Linked DNA regions of Homo sapiens. The protein of the gene in region 2 interacts with the protein of the main gene of each other region in a pairwise test. Each region holds a gene or a part of one and is shown on either strand. Other genes may lie near its edges.

Region 1 (3,655 bases), on a different chromosome or scaffold from region 2:
GTAAAAGCTCCCCAGGTGATTCCAAAGCATAGCCACAGCTGAGCAACAATGAGTTAAATCAACCCTGATGTTCAATACAGTGTCTGATGCAGCCGAACGGTCTATACATCCACAGAAGGGAGAAAAAAAGGCATAGCCAGAATTTCTAAGTGAAAAGAATACCAAATCCATGTTTTAAAGTGAAATGGAGGCATCTCCGCTGGGGCAAGACCTGTCACATGTTTGCTATTCCTAGAAAGACCTGCAATTAGCTGCCAACAGATGCATTATTTCATCAGTCCCATAAATACTCGATGAAAGTCTTCCGCTTTTCCTTTATGTCAGCCTTGCAGAGGTAGGAAGAAAAAAATCTTGTGACAAAATGCAGTACTGAACGATCATCATTTCCTTTTAAATGATTAAAATTAGCATTCATAAAAATAAAATATTTTAGTGAAATCTCATTCCAGCATACCTCTAAAGGCCCTTGGAAATTCTCCTCTTAAAATGAAAAAAAAAAAAATGCATTAGTACAATTTTTAAAAAGCCTCTTTCAATTATTAACACTGCAGCATAATACAATTCCATTTCAAACTCAGTGGGAAGCCAAGATTGCGCAGCAGAAAAAGTCCTAAATCAAGAGTTGCAAAGCCTGGATTCTAGTCCCAGTAATAAATTACATTAACTAGCTGTGTGATCATGGGCAAGTTGACTTAATCTCCCTAGGCCTCTGTTTTCTCAGAGAAAAATTAGATGACCTGTGAGTCCCACCCAGTTCTAAAATTCATAATACCAGGATATGGCTCCATCTTGCTGACTTTGTTTCACTAGCAAGTAAATGTGTTTAAAATTTAGAGAACTTACGAATTTTGAAATTCTAGTTAATTTAACTAATTCCTATCACTGGGCATAAATTGAAAGAGCAAAACTGTGAAGCATCATGAAAACAGCTCTATCTACTATCTATACTAGAACTGGAGCCTTCCTGCTTTAACTATGCCAGCCAGGTGATGGCTCCTCCCCCAAATGCCTGTCTTTCTTTTTAAATTAAAAAAATATATGATGAAAAGCAACTTTTGGCCACATCCTCACACCATTATTATTTTCTTTTCTTTTTTTTTTTTTTTTTTTTTGGGGGGGATGGAGTCTCACTCTGTTGCCCAGGCTGGAGTGCAGTGGCACAATCTCGGCTCACTGCAACCTCCACCTCCTGAGTTCAAGCAATTCTCCTGCCTCAGCCTCCTGACTAGCTAGGATTACAGGTGCCTGCCACCACACCCGGTTAATTTTTTGTATTTTTAGTAAAAATGGGGTTTCACCATGTTGGCCAGGCTGGTCTCAAACTCCTGACCTCAAGTGATTCACCCGCCTCAGCCTCCCAAAGTGTAGGGATTACAGGCATGAGCCACTACACCCAACCATTATTTCCGTTGGTTTTGTTTTTTAGACGAAGTTTCGCTCTTGTCCCCCAGGCTGGAGTGCAATGGCGCGATCTCAGCTCACTACAACCTCCACCTGCCAGGTTCAAGCGATTCTCCTGCCTCAGCCTCCCAAGTAGCTGGGATTCCAGGCGCCTGCCACCACGCCTGGCTAATTTTTGTATTTTAAGTAGAGATGGGGGTTTCACCATGTTGGCCAGGCTGGTCTCAAACTCCTGACCTCAGGTGATCTGCCCGCCTCGGCCTCCCAAAATGCTGGGATCACAGGAGTGAGCCACTGTGCCTGGCCTATTTTTTTATAGTCTCCTTTATGTTGACACATTTCTACTTAAATGTAAGTAATGGTTTTTTCCTAAATAATTTGGTATACTTTCAATCTTATTTCCTATTCAATATTCCTATGAACATTTTTCTTTTTATTTTTGGTTGATACATAAAAATTGTATATATTTATGGGATACAGGGTAACATTTCAATACATGCATACAATGTGTAATGATCAAATAAGGGCAATCAGTATATCCATCATGTCAAACATTTATTCTTTCTTTGTGCTGGGAATATTCAAAATCCTCTCTTCTAGCATTTTGAAAACACATAATAAATTCCTGTTAACCATATTCACCCTACAGTGCTAGGACATTAGAACTTATTCCACCCATCTAGCTGTAATTTTGTATCCATTAACCAACCTCCCCATCCCTGCCTCCCTCATACCCTTCCCAGTCCCTAATAACCACAATTCTAGTCTCTAAAAGTCATGTATTTTTAAAAGGAACTTCGTAAATAGAAAAGTTTTGCTTGCCATAAATGGAAGGAACCCATTAAGTTGACACAAAAAAAGCAATACAACTAGATTCTAGCTAAATACTGTTGCCCACAGAAGGCTTTAAGCATGAGGACCTCCTATCATTCTTACCGAACTGAAACAGAAATAGAAAGGAAATAACTTTCTCATCATGTAATTCAATATTACTTAATCCCACATCCACGTATCAACTAAAGTCATGCTACGAGCCACACAAGATCACGGCTGCACACACATCTCACATGTTGAGAGCAAAACAAAAGGTAGCCACTGAGCCTCTGCTGATGTGGAATGTGATTCATCCCAGGGAGGAAGGTGTCTTATTAGCCACATTGTCACCTGTGGCTCCCACTTGACTTCCTGTGTATTTGTGGTCCCCTCTATCTGAAAGCTCTCCTCCCTGTATCAACTCTGCAGCCAAACTCAGTTCTCTGCTCAGTGTCCCCTCATCAGAGAGGCTTTCCCTGACCACCCCCACCACCACACATACCGCTTCTCTTCATAGCGCTCTTCACCACCAAATGTTATTTATTCATTTGCTTATTATCTGTCCCTGCCCTTATCCCCTCCCTCTACTAGAATACATTGAACTCCATGAAAATAAGGGCTTTGTTTTGTTTACTGTTATATCTCCAGCACCTACTGTCTTGCACAGGGGTCCCCAACTCCCATACCGGTCCGTGGCCTATTAGGAACCGGATCGCAGAGCAGGAGGTAAGTGGCAGGCAAGCGAGGATTACCACCTGAGCTCCTCCTCCTATTGGATCAGCAGTGGCATTAGACTCTCATAGGAGCATGAACCTATTGTGAACTGCACATGCCAGAGATCGAGGTCGCGCACTCCTTATGAGAATCTAATGCCTGGTAATAATCTAAGGTGGAACAGTTTCATCCCGAAACCATCATTCCCCCCAACTCTCCCGTTGGTTGAAAAATTGTCTTCCACAAAACCAGTCTCTGACGCCAAAAAGGCTGGGGACCTCTGGTTTAGCACATGGTCAAGACTCAGCAAATATTTGCTGGATGAACGCATGAATGCCCTCAACTGATCTGGAGATCCTCCATTTGTCTTTATATACCCAGTACCTGGCATTCAGTAGGTCCTTAGGAAGTATATGAAAATCGGGCTGGGTATACACAGAAACCTGGGCCCTCTGCAGACTCTCCCTTTACCGAGGGAAGGGTCTTGCTATGGATACTGACCCACTGTTCTCACTCTAGCACACAGGACGCCACTAGGCAAACACTACTCAGTCACAGTGGAAGCACATGGATAGACTGCAAGCTAGATACACTGAGACCAACACTGAACTTACATGCAGAGCAAGGTCAATTACGTGGTATGATTGGAGGAACCTATGAAAAGAATCCCAAGCTAGAAACCTCTCTAATAAACCCATCACAATATCTAAAATATCTGCCATTAAGA
Region 2 (3,655 bases):
TTTATAAAATTTACTCTTACTCTCAAATTATTATAAATGCAAGAAACTATTTTATATTTACAGAATTAACCAGAAGATATGAATCATGATACAGATTAAAATGGCTTTATTACTAGACTTAAAATGTCTTAAGAAAATTTTTAAAATATTGAAATATTCTTCATACTAGGCCATTCGACAATGCAAGAGTGCAAATGTGTAGTTACCAATATATATATGCAAACTAAATAAATTGCATTGATTAAAAACAAAAAACCTAGATACCTACTGCTGTCTTTGTAGACCAATAAAATGCAGGCCATTATCTTCAAAAGTTCAGCAACAACCACTGCTGTAGAAGATAGATAACGAGGTCCTTCTTCTTTTAAAGTTCTGGAATAACGCATTGTTAGAACCAAACTGGTAGTCTGAAAGACCAAAATTCCCAGGGAAACGTATTTTAGGTTGGCGAACATTGTTTTATCTTCATTTGCCTGAAAAACAAAATAAACAGGGCAAATAAATAAGATTACAACATATGAAAACTAGTATATTTAAAAACACCGAGAGGGAGAAGGGAGAGGGCCTGCAGGTCTCTCCTCCACCTGCCACCAAAAAGAAAAAAGAAAAAAAAACAGAAACCAAGAGACTCAAGATGAAATAAGCACACTCCACCTTATTCTTTCTGCTAATTACAACCAAAAACCTTGAATTGGAAACAAAAAGCAACTACCAGAAGACTCTGAAAGGTGAAGAAAATAAGGTAAATTGGATAGAGACATCAGATCTTGACGGATGACTCAGCAGTGAGTTCCCTAGAGATTTTTTTTGCTACAGATGTAATCTACTTTGGGTGCTACAGCAGCCCAAAACCTGAAACTGCTCAAAGGCATAGAACAAAAACAACAACAAAAGCCCCAAGAAAAACATACTTTCTCTAACCAAAGGCCTGAGAAGGCAAGAGTCTTTCAGAATAAAATCTTTTCAACTGGTTACTGTGTAATCAGCAAGAAAGAACTTTACTGACCATCCTCGTCTTGAACCAATGAGAGCAGAGGTGGTGGCCCTTCCCCCTCCCACTAGGGGTTACAGCCACAGAAACTGTGGCACAGAGCCCTGCTGACCATTCCTGTCCTATAGAAGGCAAATGTTTGCAAGGAGGCAGTACTCTTCCTCCCTCCCCAGTGGCTGTCTATTAACATAGAAGATTTAAATAGGAAACAGAGTCTCATAATATGCAAAAAGTTCAGGAAACAATCCAAAGTAAGTATATTTATTATACCAACAAACAGAAAAAAGGTCTCAACTTGGATGAGTAAGGACAACCAACAGACAACAATGCAGAGATGACACAGTTGTTGCAATAGTCAGAAAAGAATTTCAAGCAAGCTATCTTAAAAATGCAGCAACAAGCAATTATGAAGACTTAAAATAATTTTAGACTCACATAGTTTAAAAAATAGTACAAGAGTTCATATGTACCCTTCACCCAGCTTCCCCCAATGAAACTAATTCAAAATCCCTATATTTTCCCTAAAGCAATTCAGTATTACTCCAGGAGACTTACTTTAAATATGAAGACATATATAGGTTAAAAAGTAAAAGGACAAAAAAAGATATATCATGAAAAAAATAACTAAAAAAATTAAAGAAACTTTAGTAATATCAGCCAAAATGGGTTACATAAGATTTATTTCTGGAATCAAAGAAGGACATTTCATCATGATAAAAGGGTCAATACATTAGAAAAATATAACCATTTTAAAACACATATGTGCCTAATAACATACCTTCAAAATACATAAAGCAAAAACTAACATAACTAAAGGGGAAAACAGGTAAATGCAGTCATAATTAAAGATTTTTACCCTACCTTTCTCAGTAATTAGTAAAATAACAACAAAAAAGAAAACCCAGTAAGAATATAGAAAATCTGAACACTATCAACCACCATTACCATGGTAGACAAAAAAATGATCTACCTGGCTGGGTGCAGTGGCTCATGCCTGTAATCCCAGCACTTTGGGAGGCTGAGGCAGGTAGATCATGAGGTCAAGAGATTGAGACCAGCCCGGCCAACATGGTGAAACCTCGTCTCTACTAAAAATACAAAAATTAGCTGGGTGTGGTGGCACGCACCTGTAGTCCCATCTGCTCGTGAGGCTGAGGCAGGAGAATAGCTTGAACTCGGGAGGTGAAGGTTGCAGTGAGCCGAGATCATGCCACTGCACTCTAGCCTGGCGGCAGAGCAAGACTACGTCTCCAAAAAAAGATCTATCAGATCTTACTTGAATTCAAGGATTCAAGGAAGGACTTAATGCAGTGTCTAATACCTGACTGCTTTCCTAGTGATGATCACATCCTTTGTCATAGATTTAACTGAAGATGCAATTCAATTCTGAACAAAATCGCTGTAGGCTTTTTTGGTAAACAAACAAACAAAAACCAAGCAAGCTTATTTTAAAATCATATGGAAATACAAAGGACCTAGACCATCAAAACGATTTTGAAAAAGAAAAACAAAATTGAAAGGCTTAAGCTACCAAACTTCCAGACTTACTATAAAACTACAGTAATCAAAACTGGTGGCTGGGCGCGGTGGCTCACGCCTGTAATCCCAGCACTTTGGGAGGCCAAGGCAGGCAGATCACGAGGTCAGGAGTTCAAGACCAGCCTGGCCAACATAGTGAAAGCCCGTCTCTACTAAAAATACAAAAAATTAGCCGGGCATGGTGGCGGGCACCTGTAATCCCAGCTACTCAGGAAGCTGAGGCAGGAGAATTGATTGAACCCAGAGGCGAAGGTTGCAGTGAGCTGAGATTGCGCCACTGCACTCCAGCCTGGACGACAGAGCGAGACATCATCTCAAAACAAAAAAACAAAACCTGGTATTGGCATGAGGACAGAAGCATAGATCAATGGAACAGAATATAGTCCAGATTTAGATCCATATGTCTTATGAGCTTAGGCTGCTGTAACAAAGTATCATAGACTGGGTGGCTTATAAACACAGCAATTTATTTCTCACAGTTCTGCAGGCTGGAAGTCCAAGATGAGAGTGCTGGCATCGTTGGGTTCTAGTGAGGCCCTTCTTCTGAGTTCACAGATGTCTGTCTTCTCATTGTATCCTCACATGGCAGAAAACAGAGAGTTCTCTGGGGTCTCTTTTTATAAAGGCACTAATCTCATTCATGAGGGCTGCACTTTCATGACCTAATTACCTCCCAAAGGCCCTACTTCTTAATACCATCATATTGAGAGTTAGGATTTCAACATGTGAATTTGGGGAGGCAGGGGACAGAGAGGAGAAGAGCACAAATATTCAGTCTATTAAACCATATATAAATATTGTCAAACAATATTTGACAAAGGTACAGAAAAAAGGGGACAGTCTTTTCAACAAATAGTTCTGGACTGGAATAATGAGATCTATGTATTTTTATTTATTTATTTATTTTTTGAGACGGAGTCTCGCTGTCACCAGGCTGGAGTGCAGTGGTATGATCTCAGCTCACTGCAACCTCTGACACCCTTGTTCAAGCAATTCTCCTGCCTCAGCCTCCCGAGTAGCTGGAATTACAAGCACACGCCACCACACCCAGCTAATTTTTGTATTTTTAGTAGAGACGGGGTTTCACCATGTTGGCCAGGATGGTCTCGATCTCCTGACCTCATG

The links. The genes of interacting proteins can lie anywhere in the genome.
Region 1: the proteins of SLC35A3 (region 2) and CRADD interact in a two-hybrid assay, tested with the Homo sapiens proteins (one large-scale study listed by BioGRID and IntAct).

Annotation. Positions count from the first base shown.
Region 1 is NC_000012.12:93,683,762-93,687,416, reverse strand, and holds part of CRADD (death domain-containing protein CRADD), read right to left. Parts: intron 1-3,655. UniProt on the Homo sapiens protein: Adapter protein that associates with PIDD1 and the caspase CASP2 to form the PIDDosome, a complex that activates CASP2 and triggers apoptosis.
Region 2 is NC_000001.11:99,990,355-99,994,009, reverse strand, and holds part of SLC35A3 (UDP-N-acetylglucosamine transporter), read right to left. Parts: intron 474-3,655; coding exon of another isoform or gene 456-473; coding exon 269-455; intron 1-268. UniProt on the Homo sapiens protein: Transports diphosphate-N-acetylglucosamine (UDP-GlcNAc) from the cytosol into the lumen of the Golgi apparatus, functioning as an antiporter that exchanges UDP-N-acetyl-alpha-D-glucosamine for UMP.